Homo sapiens: one gene and its partner. The main gene of each other region encodes a partner of the protein of the gene in region 2 in a complex. Each region holds a gene or a part of one and is shown on either strand. Other genes may lie near its edges. The genes, in order: CDC42 and FMNL1. A codon is read from its position in the direction of its gene.

Region 1 (7,098 bases), on a different chromosome or scaffold from region 2:
TTATACAAACGGTTGTATATTTTTAATTTCAAAATTTGAAGGTAACCACAATTGTATATTTCCCTCACAATAAAATCAGAAGCAGGAAAATATAAAGGTGGCAGCTTTACATCTCAGCATTAACAAACTGTAAGTCAACTGTTTAAATGGATGTTATTCTTAAAAGATAATGTAACAAATGAACTCATAAAGCAGTAGCAGATACATCAATATCTTCCCCACCCCAGACTGACAAATACTCCACTACAGCACAGACAGCCAAAGCAACAGCAACACAAAGTTTCACCGCACAAAGGAAAACCAGAAAAGAATCCTCCCTTCCCCATTACACTCTACTAGGTCACCCCTTTTCCATAAGGTTTGTCATGCAATTACAATTAACAATTGATCATAAGAGTAAAATGATGTTTGTGTTACTTTCTCCATCTAGAACTAAGATCTAGAAGTGTTAAAACTCTTGTTATTTTCTCCAAGAGGACATTCTTAAAGCCAGACCAAGTTCCCTTTTGCAATAGTAATCCAAACCAAAAAGCTCTGAGCATCAGGCAACTCAAGCAGCAGAACGTTAAAACAAGTCCAACTTGACTACTGATCACAAAAAATTTATATGATATTGCATTCTTGATCAAAAACTAATACAGAGGTTGCTCTAAGGTGGTGAGTAAAAAGACGCAGAGGCTTTCAAACAGGATGGTTTTATTCCTTTGTTTTTAAACGATCTTTCTACAGTAGTGGGACAGGAAGCAGCAGCAAAGAAGGGAAGGAGAAAACAGTTTAGAATATACAGCACTTCCTTTTGGGTTGAGTTTCCGGAGGCTCGAGGGCAGCTAGGATAGCCTCATCAAACACATTCTTCAGACCTCTCTACAAGACAGAGGGGAGGAGAGAGAATAGCAGCCAGGTTAGAGGATTAGAAAGACTAGCAGGTACAACAGCAGTCCGGATTAAATGAGCTGAATTCACAGAAGCAATGTGCCTTAAGAAAAACGCTAGAATGCTAGATCTTAAGCCCATTATAACCAGGAGAGTAGATAACTGACCAAAAACTTCACCTCAAGCAAGGTTAACTGAGCAGGAAAGCAATTTTTATTAAAATGCAATATGTTGACTTCTAACACATTTTGGAAATAAATCTATTACAATTTCAGGCTTATGTGAATTCAGCCCCTGAATAACTGAAGGACACAAATAGCAGACTAACAGGCATGCTATGTGTTTCTAGGTTCAATGACATATCTGAATGTGATTAATCAAGATTTCAGAGTAAACTGGTTTCCCAGAACGGAAAGGTTCAGACATTTAAAAAGTGTTAATTGTGCAACAGTACCAACTAGAAGGACTTTAAAGAACAGACTCTAAAAACAGCATACACTTCAGTTATTCAGCAATGTTATTAGAGCAAGTAACCACCACCCAAGTCATAAGAAAACAAAGAATGGGGTCCTAGAATGAGTTTTAGCAAGCAGTCCAGTGCTTTAAGATGTCTGCATGGGTATCAGAGCATAAAGCATGGAGTGAAAACGAAGAATATTCTCAGATCTTACGGGGATTAAGATACAGAAATACACTTACACCTCAGCCAGAAACTCCAACATGACAGTGTGACTCAGCATTGGTGGTACTTAGGACCCAGGTCTACAGACTCACCTAAAATCACCTAAATCTGAAGCCACAAGTTTACCACCCAAGGTTGTTTCACATGTTCTTTAGTTTGATCAGTTTGATCCCAAGTAAATATGTCCTAAAAGTCCCAGAACACAGCTCCAATTGTAAGTGCCAACCCCAGACCACCCCAAGTGTTCCCACCTCCACCCTGCCCCCATCCATGACATCCCACAGGACTGGTACCCACATGTCACATTAGACACAAAATAAATCAGAAACAGCAGTAAATTCTTTAAAAGCAGCAAAAGTTAAAAAGCCTTCCTCTTTCTACATCATTTACAAAGTAGAAATGCCACATAAAAGTTAAAATTCCACTGCAATTCTTTCTGCACATCTAGGAACCAACTCTGGCAGTAAAATATAAAAGGAAGGAAGGAGTACAGAAAGGGAAATATACTTTATAAGGAAAAAAAGAGGAGGAGGACTATTAGAAACTGGAGTGTATCCCTTAACAAGAAGGAATTCCTTTCTTGCTTACCATGGACGAAGATCAACAAATGCTCTATGAAACAAAACTAATCTTTGCTTGACCACCATCTGTTTATATTAAGACTTTAGTTTTAGAGGAATCAACAAACAGAATCTGTAAGCCTCAAAGTTCTAGCTCCCAAACACAACCACAGACCCCATTTTCTAACTTCCCCTCTTTTGACTTCTCCATACTTCAAACTCTGGTAAGAAAAATGTACCTGCTAAGACCTTTTAAACTTCATACTCTCTACAAACGGATTTACTATATACACCTGTTGATACTGTAAAAATCTTACATTAAAAGCATCCAATTATCTAAAGCATCACTAGTAACCTAAAAGTGAATCCACAGGGCCTATGTGTCTTCCCTCAAAGCAACCCATATCTAGAGAACAGAGGTATGCATCAGAAGCACACAGAATTAGTGTCTAACATGGACATGAGTGTTTCACACATGACTTTCCCTTGTCTCCCCCAATATACACACACAGGCACACTTTTCTGGGAATGTTACTAAAACACACAGAGAAGCACCAGGCATTTTTTAAAACTCTCAAAACAGTTGCTATGCATGAGAAGGTGTAAAATCTTCTAAACTTTTAAATAACTGCTTCTATAATAGCACTAAACTGCCCAAAAAAACGAGGATTAGAAGATTATGTTTAAATCATCTGATACTAGGCCTCGAAGTTATTTTGAGGGATATCCCAGTTAAGCATAAAAGTTTTATCTGTAAATATCCAACCAAGTACTAAACTTACTATTAAATTATGCACTAGGCCCTATAAACTAAATACCTAGTGCATATGTAATAAGTAATCATATATGCCATTTACCCTAGTATACACGTAGTTAAGAATCCAATAGTGTTTTTTAGAAACACAATAAAAATGAATGAATTACCTGAAAACATAAGCATAAATATAATGAGTTTAATATAATTATTAGAAACCTCCACCCTTCAATCTTGCCCTATTAGGCATGTCTGCTCAGTGTTCAAACTTCAAAGCACCAGTACCAGTAGAACATAAAACTTTTGTGCTAATTATTTCCATAACCTTTTCCTTTGCCCCCAGAACAGTACTCAAAGGACGGAATCAGCGATATCATGAAGGTGAAAAAGTTTAAACCATACACATCAGTTACAAGTCCCATTCCAAATACCCTAACATTGCTCCCTATCTTCAAAATCTGAGTTTCCCATCAAACTACAAAAGGAGTTCCAATTAAATCACTCAAAAACGGCCGGAATGCATGAGGAAGGAATACTTCCAAAAATATAGGAATAGGGACACTATATAAAGCACGCTTGAGAACTGTGGCAGAAATAGCCATGGCTGCCTTCTTTGACATTAAAGTCTCAATTATTATGACTAATTCCCTATCCTGGTTGAATTGCCCAAGAAACAGTATAGTATCAATTGTCAGAATTGGCAAGAAAAGATCAGACATATTCAGATGAAAATTTAAGTGTTTAGAAAAAAAAAAAATCATTCACATCGTCTCTTGCAAGTTTATGCTTATCTGAACCTTTCCTGTAAGGTTTTTGTTTTAACACAACCCTGACCACTACGAATCATTCAGTACAATACGAGAGCTTACCAACACAAGGGGTTTAGGAACTAATAATATTCTCCAAAAAACACAGAGGCCTCTAACAAAAGAACATACAATATGAAGCTGTTCATATTCTTGCTGGGCATCTTTGAGCACTGCTGATCACTGTTAGAAATAACTCCTGTATCCTAATGCTCTAATAAATGACTCGACCATAAATACACATGGGGTTTCATGCCATTCTTACCTGTGTAAGTGCAGAACACTCCACATACTTGACAGCCTTCAGGTCACGGGCCAGCTTTTCAGCAGTCTCTGGAGTGATAGGCTTCTGTTTGTTCTTGGCAAGTTTCTCAATAGTAGAGGGGTCATCTCTGAGATCAATTTGAGTCCCAACAAGCAAGAAAGGAGTCTTTGGACAGTGGTGAGTTATCTCAGGCACCCACTAAAAAAAGGTATTTTAAAATACACCTTTGTTAATCAACAAGCCTCTAATGCTATTTATAACAGGTCAGTAGAAATTCTGAGATGATCTTCTTAGGGCAAGAGTATCTGATCAGCTTACCTTTTCTTTCACGTTTTCAAATGAAGATGGAGAGACCACTGAAAAACAGACTAGAAATACATCTGTTTGTGGATAACTCAGCGGTCGTAATCTGTCATAATCCTCTTGCCCTAGAAAAAAGAAAAATATTGGAGAGAATTCAGCAACTGAATCTTGGTGTCCTCAAAGTGTTAAAAGCATGCTGGTCATTACTCAAAAAGCAACTTACTTATCTAATAAAATGTATGGCTTTGTAATATAATATGTGGGCAATATTCTCAATCAGCTAATTCTACAAACTTCAAGCACTCAGAACAGCAATGAATTTACTATTATGTTATTTGCTTTTATTACCAGTTTGTGGTGTTCAATCTTTGTGTCCATTAGAAACCCAATAATAAATGTAATAATAAACTCTTGCTACAGAAATGGTTAAAAATCAATCCTTGTAATCCCAGCACTTTGGGAGGCCGAGACAGGCGGATCACCTGAGGTCAGGAGTTCAAGACCAGCCTGGCCAACATGATGAAGCCTCATCTCTACTAAAAATATAAAAATTAGCCGGGTGTGGTGGTGCACATCTGTAATCCCAGCTACTTGGAAGGCTGAGGCAGAAGAATCACGTGAACCCAGAAGGCGGAGGTTGCAGTGAGCCGAGATGGCATCACTGTACTCCAGTCTGGGTGACAGAGTGAGACTCCATCTCAGATATGGTAAAGAAACAATCACAGTGAAATCATCTAAGGAAAGAAAAACCTCACTGAAACCCAGATGACAAAATCCACTGCCCATCATGACTACAAACAGAGGTTCACATATTTAGTTAATGCGTGTATATAAGACCGGTATCTGAAACTGATAAAGCCTAGAAAACAAATTTAGCAAGAATTAATCGATACTCAAAATAATAAAAATACTTAGAATTAACTTAATCAGAGGCAAAAGACTTGGATAACAAAAAAATTCAAAACTGCTGAAAGAAATTAAAGAAGACATAAATAAATGGAAACACATCCCACATTCATGAACTGGAAGACTTAATATTGTTGACATGTCAACATTATCCAAAGCAACCTACAGACTCAATGCAATCCCTATCAAAATCCCAACAAGGGATAGTAATCTTGAAACAAGGGACAATAGACAAAATAATCTTGAAAAAGAATAAAGCTGAAGCACTCCCATTTCCTGATTTCAAAACTTACTACAAGGCTACAATAATCAAAACAGTGCGGTATTGGCATAGGGAGATATATAAGACAATGGAATAGACTAGAGAACCCAGAAATAAACCCTTACATATGTGGGCAAATGATTTTTCTTTTTTTTTTTTTTTTTTAGACAGAGTCTCACTCTATCACCCAGGCTGGAGTGCAGTGGCACAATCTCGGCTCACTGCAACCTCCACCTCCCCAGTTCAAGAGACTCTCCTGCCTCCACCTTCTGAGTAGCTGGGACTATAGGCACACACCACCGCACCAGGCTAATTTTTGTATTTTTAGTAGACACAGGGTTTCACCATGTTGGCCAGGCTGGTCTTAAACTTCTGACCTCAGGTGATCTGCCCACCTCAGCCTCCCAAAGTGCTAAGATTACAGGTGTGAGCCACCGTGCCTAGCCTAGCTCAAATAATTTTTGATAAGGGTGCCAAGACCATTCAGTGGTAAAAGGACTCTTCAATAAATGGTGCTGAGAAAATGACATATTCACAAGCAAAAGACAAAGATGAAACCTTACCTAATACTATATACTAAAATTAACTCAAAATGGATAAAAGGTCTAAATGTTAGACCTAAAACTTTAAAACTCCCAGAAAACATAGGGCAAAAGATTCAGGTGGACTTGGCAATAATTTGTTTGGATATCACACCAAACCACCAAAAAATAGACAAACTTCATGAAGCTGTGAAAATTTTATACATCAGAAAATAGTATCAACAGAATAAAAACGCAACCCACAAAATAGGAAAAAATATATGCAAATCGTGTATGTGATAAGAGATTAATACCCGGAATCTACAAAGAACTCCTAAAACTTACCCCAAAAAAAAAATCCCAATTCAAAAATGGGCAAAGAACTTGATTAAACAGACCTTTCTCCAAAGATATATAAATGGCCATAAGATGCTCAACATCACTAATCATTAAGGAAATACAAATCAAAACCACAATTAGATACCACCTCACACTAATTAGGATGGCTACAATTAAAAAAAAAAAAAAAAAAAAAAAAACAGGAAATAAGTGTCGAACAGAAGAATGTGACTATATCAAACCCCACGTACTGTTGGTAGGAATATAAAATGGGACAGCCACTGTGGAAAACAATACGGAGGTTCCTCAAAAAAATTAAAAACATGATCCAACAATTCCACTTCTGGGTATATACCCCAAAAGAACTGAAAGCAGGGTGTCAACAAGGTATCTGTATACCCATGTTGATAGCAACATTATTCAAAATAGCTAAAACGTGGAAGCAATTCATAGCACCAGTATTAAAACTGGAACCCAAACATCCATCAACTTGTTAATGGATAAACAAAACTGTGATATATTCATAGAACAGAATAACACTCGGCAATCAAAAGAAACAACTACCAATACACACAACATGGACAACTCTCACAAACATTATGCTATGTAAAAATAGTCACACAAAAGACTACATATTGTATGGTTCCATTTATATGAAACCCTAGAAAAGCAAAACAGTAGAAACAAAGAAAGCAGATCAGTGGTTGCCTGGAACCAGGTCAAGGGACAGGGCTGACTGCAAAGGGAACCCAGAAATAAACACTCACATATATGGTCAAATAATTTTTGATAAGGGTGCCAACACCATTCAGTGGTAAAAGAACTCA
Region 2 (10,058 bases):
GAGCCCTCACTCACCCAATGTGGTTGGTCCTCAGGGAGGTCTCCAGCTCCCGTAGCACCTGCGTGGACTCCTGAACTCGCCTCTTAAACTGGGGACCGAGAACAGGGAAGGCTGGTGGGTGGAGCCCGGCCTCCCACAGGCCCACCAAGTCCTGAGGCAGCAGGCAGCAGCGCCCACCCTCCTCCAACTGGCACAAGTGGCCTTTCATGCTCAGCCTCCCCCACCACCTCCACACACCTGCCCAGCAGAATAAGAACTCACAGGCTACATGTGCTCCCCCATACATAGACAAGCAGGGTACACACACCCCCGATACATGGGCACACAAGGTATACACATGCACACACACAAAGAGGCAGAGTGTGTGTGCGCACACACACACACAGCACATGAACATCCATATACCTGCACTCTAAATACAGACATAGAATATCCACACATCCATACATGGACACACACACACACACATTCTCTCTCTCTCCTAGATATGGACTCAATGGTACACACACACATCCATAAGTGGACAAAGTACACACATAGTATACACACACACCTATGTATGGACATATGGGCTGCACATGTGTATACACACAGTATAAGTACACAGAATGTGTCCATGTAAGCACACACAGGATGTACAGAGGAATATCTAAAGTGCACACCCAGGGCACTCTCATTCCCCTATAAATACACAGACACACAAACACACACACACACTCATACATGCACCCACACACGCACATAGAAAAGTCTGTACACACAGTTACTCCAGCTGCCCAGAGCTTGGAAAATGTGGGGGAAAGGGACAGAGTAAAGAGGGGAGACATGTACCCCCAGGTTGGACATCCAATCAGCTGCTACCTTTCGGCTGACCCCACCAGTATCCACATAGCTCTTCAGCTTCTGGATGTAGGCTGCGGGGGGATTCTTGACTTGAAACCGCTCCTGGGGAGATGGAATGGGGTGTACAGAAAACCAGCCAGAGCTACCCCAGGGCAAATGACCAGTTCTCGTCCCAGTGTCCCATTCTCAGCTCCGATCTGAGGTCCCAGGCTTTCTTAAGACGCCTCTGAAATACCAAAGGTATAAACCCAAACAGTCCACCAAGCCACTTTCTTTTTTTTTCTTTTCTTTTATCTTTCTCTTTTCTTGCCCTGTGGCCCAGGCTGGAGTGCTGTGGCACGAACATAGTTCACTGGAGCCTCCTACTCCCGGGCTCAAGCGATCCTCCTACCTCAGCCTCCCAGGTAGCTGGGACTACGGGTGTGCACCACCACGCCCAGCTAGCATCGGGCCACTTTAAAAACCCCTGGCCTAGGCCTAGCCTGCCCTTCCTGTATGGGCTCCCAGGCCACAGCCCTGACACAGCTTTGGGGTGGACTATGCAGGGGTCAGTCCTGCCGTAGGCCCCGCCCTGGGGTGGGAAGGAACTCAGTCTAGCCAGCAGGTGGTGCCCTCCCTGGACCAGAGCTGGCATACGGCGGGGAAGGACGGCTGGAGGTGCCTCGTGAAGGGGACCCAGCACCTGGGTAGGACTCGGACCCAGCCGCCCTGCACATCTGCGTTGGCAGGAACCTGCGTGCTCCTCTCCTGTGCTCAGTGATGCAATTCCTAATCCCCCCACCCCACTGCAGGCTCCAGCGGCCACTCACACAAAGAGGCAGGGACCACGGCAAAGACCCCTCCCCAGAGGGGCCCCCACCCTTCCAACCCAAACCCCTCAGATTCGCCGAGCCACCCCTCAGACTTTCACTTCTTCCAGCCCTTTGAGCCCCCAACCTCTGAGATGTCAGGCTGAGCTGCTCCAAGGGGACCCCTACCAGAGACTCCAGGGGCAGCTCTCCACCCTCTTCCCACTTCCCAGCCCTTACCCCTGGACTGCTGCCCAGCCGGCTCAGGCCATCTGCTTCATTAGCAGGAGGCAAAGGCCCAGCCTTGGCTCCCAGGGGAGGCTCTCAGCTCCCAACTCCCCACCCCCAGCCTCTGCAGCCTCCCTCCTTCACAGAATCCCTGCGGCAGCCGAGCCCCACCCAGCCCAGCGCTGGGAGAGGGTCGGCCCATGGCCGACCGCAGCCCTTGAAGCTGGAGGGGTGGGGACAGCTGAGTGACCCGTGAGTCCAGGCACCTGGACGGAGCACCAAAGCAGGGGTCCAAAGTGGCTGGCCTTGGGGAGTTGCTGGTCAACTGCAGCTCCTCTGGACCCAAGGCAAAAGGGCAGGAATTCCCGCCCCTTCCTCCCTCCCTCCCATGGGGTCAGGTGAAGATGTCCAACCCCAGGGTCGCCCTCTCCCTTCCCCAGTCCAGAGAGGTTTCTCAGGAAGCTCAGCAGGAGGACAGTGACAGTGCGAGGCCCCAGCTGCCCCAGCCTGAACCAGCTCTGCCAGCTCCTCTGAAGCTGACCCAGCCCTGCTAGTGACTCACAAGGTCTTTTGGGGAGTTCAAGAGAAAGGGATTTGGGAGTCCTGCAGACCCCAGCACCCTCCCCAGGTGCTACATTGGCCACTGAGCAGAGTCTTGGCTCCATGGGCAGTATGGCGGTGCCCCTCTCCCCATAGCCCCAGCCTGGTCAGGGTGGGGTACTGACAGTGGGAGGGAAGGGGTGGCTGGGCAGTGCTGGCACCTACCTGATCACAGATGAGCTCCCACTTCTTCTCGTTGTCATACTGGCTCAGCAGCTGGACCTTGTCTGGGGGCAAGTTCATGCAGTTCTGGGGACAGGGAGGACAAAGACCCCTGAGCCTGGGGCCCCAACAAGGGGAGAGGGGAGAATGGGCATTTGGGGGAAACCCACTTGGCTCCCTAGGAGGTGCATCACCCCCATGAATCCTCTGACCCTAGGAGATACGTAGTGTTATCCAATGAGAAGACCAAGGCCAAGAGAGACAGAGCACCTTTCCCGGGGCACACCAGCTAGAAGGGAGAGCAGGATTTGAATCCGAGTCTGCCTGCGCTGTGTCACCCCCCACACCGCCTCCCTGGCCTGCCTGGTGTGCAGGCAGGAGCGTGGGTTGTCAGCCTACCTCTCTGGGGACCTGAGACACTTCTGGGCCCCAGTTTTCCTGTTGGGGCATCATCTCTTCCCCCATTCTGGTGGGAAGCTAACAGGGGAGCCATCACCAGTCAGGCCAAAGTGTGGCCAGTGGCCAGTGGCCAGTGTCCCACCTCCACGTGCCACCAGATCCCACGTGTACACAGACCAGGCCCAGGGCACCAGTGCCTCACGAACACCAGGAAATCTCTTGCAAGGAGAGTGGACAGCAGCCTTCTCCTCATCCCTCTCCAGCCCCCTCCCACTTGGAGGAGAAGGCTGAGAAAGGAAGGAGAGGGCTGGGGGAGCTGAGGGCGGCCATGTCAGCAGGCAGGGAGTTCCAGATCACAGCTGCAGGGGCGGGGAGATTTGCGGGGAAGGTCACTCGGCCACAGCACTGGGGAGAAGAGCCAGTGCCCTGGGTCTGTGGTGGGGGCCGCCCAGCTGGGACTCCCCCAGGAGCTGAGAAAGGTCAACAGAGCTCTGCCTGGGTCCTCCTCCCCTGGCCACAGATGACAAGGGTACGGTGCCCCTGCCACCACGGAGCAGGTTAGCGCCAGCCCAGGGCTGCCGAATCAACCAGGTGTCAATAGCACCAGGGGCTTTCTGGACCCCCAGACTTGGCTTGTCTCCCTGACAGACCCAAAAGATGAGGCCAGTTCCCTTCAATTTAGTAAACCCCAGGTTATTGAGAGCCTTCTATATGTCTGGCCCAAAAAGACAGTTCCTGCCCTCAAGGAGATCTGAGTTGAGTAAGAGTCTCCATCGGGGATGTGGGAGACCCTGAGGGGCTCACCAGCCATGGTGGTTCACGCTCCACACCCTCAGTCATGTGGCTCTGCAGAGACGCCACAGCTGGAGCAGTCAGAGGGCCACACCCACCTGAGACTCCCCAGCCAGCTTCCCCTCCAGGGTGCTGGGCCTAGTTCTGGGGCTCCAGCCAGACCTTACCCCCAAAATCACTGCCTTGGGTCAGGCCCAGACAACAGGAAGCTGGGTGCGCTCAGCCTCCATTGCCTAAGCTTTCCGGCCAGGCCCTGCTGGAGAGGTGAAACTGCCCCTCCGCCAGGCCCCCCGCCCCCAGCGGCTGAAGGGGGTGGAATACGTCATTCCTCTCCCCTATTGCGAAAGTGAGCCTGGATTGAGGAAACCACCGCTGTCTCATCAGCCGCCCTCCCCCAGCCCTCCAAGGGCCAGGACAGCTCCTGCTACCACAGGGGCAGGGGGTGGGGGAACCGCCCAGGAGTACAAAGGAGGCGAGGTCATTCTCTGTCTCTCTGTCCCTGTCCATCTGTCTGTCTCTCTCGATGATGTCTCTCAGTCACCCCCACCCCACAGAGACAAAGGGTGGGGCAGGGCTAAGGTGGGAGCAAGGTGGAGAAAAGGGACAAAGAGGAGAGACAGGGCCAGCAGTGCCAGGGAAACTGGAGCCGTGGCCGGCACAAAAGACGGTGGCCAGGGAGTAAGGGGATGGCTGAGCCCAGCACAGAGCCACAGAGGGGACAGCTGCTTCCCGACATGAATCCTCCCAGGCCCTCACCCACCCAGGGAACTTTATGGTTCTGGAATGGCCCCAGCGGCATTTCTAGGGGCAGTAACTAGTCATAATGACATCTCCAACAGTCAGGTGGCCAGCTCCACCAGAATGCCTACTGTGCAAGGCACTGCTCCGAGCCCTGCGCGCCGACGACTGCCTTCCACCCTCACTGCCGTCACTGGCACCGTTAACATTCCCACCTCACAGGTGCAGGCACAGATTAGTTTAGTGACCTGCCCAAGGTTACGAAGCCAGTAAGAGGAGAGCTGGGCTGGCTTTGAGCCTGGAGCTGACTCTGAGCCACCACCTGGGTCCACTCCCCCAGGACAGCCCCCTGGTTGTTACTGCCGAGGGGAGGCCTCTGCTGGGGCCTGGAGCACCTGTCTGAACAGTGGTGGAGGGCAGGGTGCCCATGCCCCTTCCCCACCTGGGCCTTCTCAGGCCCCCAGGCCCACATGCCAGCCTGCCAGACAGGCTAAATTTAGGCTCAGAAATCAGAAATAGCTCTGACAGCGCCGAACACTAATTAGCAGCTGCTCCTCAGCTGTGGCTGTGCCCACCGAGGAGCCAGGCACTCCAGGGAGTAGGAGAGGGGCCATCAGATGCCACTCACTCGGGGTGGAGTGAGGCCACCCTGAAAACAGGAACAGACCCCCAGACCAGGGCCTTCAGCGAGGCAGCAGCACCATGGGATGGGGGGCTGGGGGACACACGGAGAGTTGGCTGACAGTGCTCAAGTAGGAGGGGAGGGGCTGGCAGTCCAGGTGGGCGGGATACCTGCCTCCTGAGGGGGGCAGGGAGGGACAGCTATGAGCTGCCACATGGAGGACCTGGAGCTGGCTTCAAAAGACCCAGGCTCTGGGCCCAACTAGCCCTACAGCTTCTTTGCCCCCTTGGACCTCAGCTTCCTCCTCCATAAAATGGGCGCACTCCCTCACCGGAGCCTCACACTCACGGAGCTCCTGGAACACTCAGTGAGAAGCTGAGTTTGGATTTAACAAAGCTCTTCAGTGGCCTAACACTATGAAGAAGCACTTCACAGAGGCAGAAGAGGTGGAGGGGCAGGGGTCCATGGAAGACCCCAGGGTAGGGGATGGTAGGGTGAGCAGAAGTTTGTGAAAACATCCAGAAACACAGACTTGTCTCCAAGGCTTTGGCCAAACCTTAACTAGCCTCAGCCTACTTTCCCTGCTGCCTTTAGTGCTTTGGGCCAGATGAGGAAAGAGACAGGATTCATCTTTTAGGGTGTGGCCGAGAAAAGGAACTGATTCCCCACATCTTTCTATTAGAATGTGTGGGGACCATTCTCCTCCCTCCCTGCCCTGAGTGTGAGAGGGGACCCCCAGCATCTGCTCACCTAAGACCAGCCCCCAAAAGACACTGCTAAGAGCCCTTCCCCCACCTCCCCCACACCAGTGCTTACTTCTGAGACAGTGTCCCAGGAGGCTGAAGGGGCTGCGTCCACATCTGGACACAGCCACACCCTAGGGTTTCACTTTCAGTTTGAGCGGAGCCTACGTCTCAGTCCACCTGCCCATCTCTCCCTATGGCCTAGCCCTTCAAGCCCCAGGGTACCCCTGAACTTGGACATCAATCCCAGTCTCAGGCCAGCCCCACAGGCTTTCCTCAGCCCGATGGGCCCAGAAGCTGAGCCTGTCCCCCAGCCCCCACTCCCCCATCCATCTCCCTGCCACCTGCCCACCTCTATATGGTCTCAACCTTAGTTGTAGTGTTCTCGGCACATATCCAAACACAATCAATTTTACCTCCTTTTTTAAACTTTGGCATATAGATTTTCTGGGGCTCTTATAAGCAATTCCAGGCTTACAGGAGATCTATGAGGAGACCCAGCCCCAGGATCAGGTGCTGAGGACCCAAAGAGCTAACAGCTTCTCCCATCAGAGTTCAAGGGTCCCCACAGCTGGGACAAGGGCAAGCAGGGTGGAAGCCACTACCTATATCATCCAGGCTGGTAGGAGGAAAACAACACCGACAACAGTAACAATAACAAACGCTCCCCAGACACTTTTTTTCACTCAGAATTAATCTCTCAATCCCAAACACTGGGTGCTAGGTGCCGTTCTAAGCACTTTACATCAAAACTCATTTAAACCTCAACAAGCCTACAAAATAGATACTGTTATAATCCCTATTTCACAAATGGGAAACTGAGACTCAAGGAGGTTAAGGTGCTTGCCCAGGGTGGCCTCGGTGGCAAGCTAGCAAGGAAGACCCGGCTTCCTCCAAAGAAGGAGCAGCCGGGGAATGGGAAATGTGGGTCCTGGCCCCCAGGGGTCTTCTGCAGACAGCCTGGCCCAGATCCCCCATCTGAGGAACCAGGAACAGCCAGCTCCACTTCCTGCCACCCAGCGCCCCACGCTTCCTGTTGTTGCCCACACAGAGCTCTTACTCACTGGGGAACCCCCCCACCAGCACACCCTCTCTCAGGGGGAAGTGGAGGCCTCCCCTCCCCCTCCCATGTGCACACTGCTACCGTTAGCACCATCGCTGCCCCACCCTCCAGGAGAGGTAGGCCCTCCCTCCAGCGGTTTCCGGCCACCAGGCAGTTTTCGGTCTGGGCCCCACTGCTGGTGACCTGCATAACGGTGGGGAGGTTGCCTGGCCCTCACTAGCTAAGGATCTGGGGCTCCTGGGGAGTGCACAGTAACCTTGGGTGCTCTTGGTAGTGGAGGTGGAGGGAGGGGACAGGCAGGGTCTGGGCTCCCTCCGCTAAATGGGCCCTGAGATGGAGAGGACCAGATCAGCTCCAGCTTTATCCCCTTTCTCACAGTGGAGGGGGGTTACTGAGCATCTGCTCTGTGTCAGGCACTGTGCGAAGTCCTCTATTTCACCCTCTCGACAATCCTAGGAGGCCAGCAGATGCCATTATTATTCTCTTTTTACAGGTGAGGGAAACTACAGCTCAGAGAAGTTAAGTAACTTGTCCAGGGCCATGCAGGTAGTGACAAAAATGAATCTCAACCCCCAAACATCATGACCCCAAAGCTCAGGAAACGTCCCTGCCTTTCCCATAAGTAACCCCTGTCCCCTCAAAGGCCCCCCAAGCCACCTTCCAGGGCTCCATGTTCCCAGGAAAAAGGCAGAGGTAGCCCTGAGAGCACCTGCTTCTACCCGTCTCACCCAGCTCTCTGCCAGTCAGCCCCAGATGTCACTGTGAATCATGCCCACCACATCCGTGGCTTTCCAGGGTTAGTATGTGCCAGCCCTGCCTGCTGGGAATGTCACCCCTCCCCTCTGCCCAGCCCAACATCAGACCACATGGCCACATCCCCCCGGAGATCCTCTGTCCTGCAAATGGCAGGCATAAGGCCTGAGCGACCCCATGGCTCCAGGTCCCCACACTTCATCTGCCCTGTCCCGGAGGTGGGAGTGGCCAGGGGGCAGTGCCTCAGTTGCAGTCCCTCCTGCCCTTTACTGCCAGCCCCAGAAGGGAAGGGCCCCAGCTGCAAGCAGGACTCCAGGCCCACACCCAACATGGGGCCATCCTGACCTCCCCACACAGCCTGGCCAGGCACCCAGGCCTCTGGGCACAAGCCAAGAGCACCCATCAGGCAAATTCCTCTCCACTGCTACTGGATGCCAGCATGGCTTTTGGCCTCACGTACACCACCCCTGACACCTTCCCTTGATCCCTCTGCCCCAAGGTTATGGGATTCTCCCTGCCCGGCAGATCAGGGGTGTCCCAGGCCCAGGTGTAAGTGTGGCTCTTCTGGCAGGCCTGGAAAGGTCGCCTTGTCATCCCAGTCCCTGACCCTGCGTGCCTCCCAGGGGAAGGCATGAAGGGGCTGGAAGACACCCAGCCTTGGGCATGGGCGTAGGAGAGGCGAGAGCTTGGCGCCCCGCTGGCTGGTGTTCCCACCATCACAGCAGGCCCGTGGGGCTGGGCAGCCATCGCTCCTCTGCTGTTGCTAAGGCAGCAGCCGGAAACCCTGGCTCAACCTGCTCTTTCTCTCCACCCCCATTTTAAGCAGGGGGCACCCCTTTCTTTCACAGCTTTCTTGGAAAGGTAGCCCCCCACCACCCACCCTTGCATGGGAGAAGGGCTCCCTGCACCTCCTGTCTGGCTGTAAGTGGGGACACCCCTCACCCACAAGAGAGGTCCTACAGCCAGGAGAGGAAGGAGAGTTTGGGGTATCAGGATCCTATGCCCCACCAGGGACAAAAGGGGAAGGAAGAGGTTCCCTGGGGCCGCTGGACTACATCCCTGAGGGCAGGACTGTGCTTCTCCCATTGAGACTGGGGACCACTGATGGCGGTGGGCCCCTCCCCTCAGCAATCTAAGGTTCTTCTCCTCTTAGACACTGACCGAGGACAGGACTCAGCTCTGGCCATGGTGGTTCGGGTGGGGGTTCACATAGCGACCAACTCTGCGATACACACTGCCAGACCTGAGGGTTGAACCAACTCTTTAGCCCTGGGCAGCCTCAGGCAGAGGTCAAGGTTGTCACCCTGGGGCAAGCCTCATGCCCCTGCTGGTGGGGAATGAGAGGAACCAGGGTCTTAGCCAAGTGTCCTTAGATTGGGTTTAACCTGCCCACAACAGGATATAAGACAGGCTGAGCCACCCCGGGAAGAAGGTATAAACACACTGGGGTTCCTGGGCACCTGGTAGGGGGTAAGCCCTGGTGGGTGCTGCTACCCTAAATTTCTGCTAGGCACCTCCACTTTCTCCACCAGCACACCCTCTCTGACCCACCTGTGGGTGTCCCCCCTCCACATCCTGGTACTCAGGGACTCCCAGTGGCATTTAGTGTCAGACTCAGCCAATCACAGCCACAAATCCAAGCAGGGCAAACAAGTCCTACACACACATCAGAACCTCACCATTTGACTTGTGGATTTTCCCCTGGTCTGAATTATTCACAGGGCTCCTCCCCATCAGCGTGCTAAACAGAAGATTGGGGTCAGGACCTCACCCCAAGAGCCCACACCCGCGACCATAGACACACACTTGGCGGAAAGACAGACCCATGTCCCTCCAACCAGGTTGGCAGGGGTCCAAGGACCCACCACCAATGCAGGCTCTCCAGATGGCCCCCAGAGACTGTGTCTCCTCATTCTCCCCCCTCCCCCATCTGCTCAGCTCAGCTCAGCTTTGTGAAGTCCTATGCTTGGGGAGCGGGGAGCAGGGCAGGTGGAGAGATGGAGAAGTCAGGGGCCAGCCTGGTGTGAGGCGTCCCTCAGTGTCCCTGCCCTCCTCTAATCAAGCAAGGTGTCTTCACAAGGATGGATCCCTCGCCACCCCATAGCTCCTCCAAACTCCCCCCAGCCTTCTCTTGGGAGAGGACAGAAGCCAACATTTTCAGGAACTGTTAGGAGGTGACCCTCTGGAGCCATGCTGAGGATCTAGCACGTATGGCCTAATGACCAGCCAGGCGAGGGGAAATGATGTCAAGGAGATGGAGGGCCACCAACTGAGCCAGAACCCTCTGCGGCCTGTGTCTCCGTTGAGCCCCCACCCTCAGACCTGCA

The links.
Region 1: the proteins of FMNL1 (region 2) and CDC42 are in contact, whole or in part, in a crystal structure (PDB 4YDH), measured with the Homo sapiens proteins. Residues at the interface, in NP_005883.3 of Homo sapiens: Cys45 (codon at 2,705), Met46 (codon at 2,702), Asn47 (codon at 2,699), Leu48 (codon at 2,696), Pro49 (codon at 2,693), Lys52 (codon at 2,684), Leu56 (codon at 2,672), Tyr59 (codon at 2,663), Lys63 (codon at 2,651), Glu66 (codon at 2,642), Leu67 (codon at 2,639), Asp70 (codon at 2,630), Gln71 (codon at 2,627), Phe74, Tyr83, Arg122, Glu123, Glu125, Thr126, Ser127, Leu128, Arg129, Thr130, Asn131, His132, Ile133, Val136, His228, Met232, Arg235; in NP_001034891.1 of Homo sapiens: Val36, Phe37, Glu62, Asp63, Tyr64, Asp65, Arg66, Leu67, Arg68, Pro69, Leu70, Pro73, Lys94, Glu95, Lys96, Pro99, Glu100, His103, His104, Lys131, Asn132, Gln134.

Annotation. Positions count from the first base shown.
Region 1 is NC_000001.11:22,083,709-22,090,806, reverse strand, and holds part of CDC42 (cell division control protein 42 homolog isoform 1 precursor), read right to left. Parts: intron 4,369-7,098; coding exon 4,259-4,368; intron 4,139-4,258; coding exon 3,941-4,138; intron 865-3,940; coding exon of another isoform or gene 775-864; exon of another isoform or gene 1-774. UniProt on the Homo sapiens protein: Plasma membrane-associated small GTPase which cycles between an active GTP-bound and an inactive GDP-bound state. In active state binds to a variety of effector proteins to regulate cellular responses. Involved in epithelial cell polarization processes.
Region 2 is NC_000017.11:45,223,254-45,233,311, reverse strand, and holds part of FMNL1 (formin-like protein 1), read right to left. Parts: intron 2,709-10,058; coding exon 2,625-2,708; intron 946-2,624; coding exon 832-945; intron 89-831; coding exon 15-88; intron 1-14. UniProt on the Homo sapiens protein: May play a role in the control of cell motility and survival of macrophages. Plays a role in the regulation of cell morphology and cytoskeletal organization. Required in the cortical actin filament dynamics and cell shape.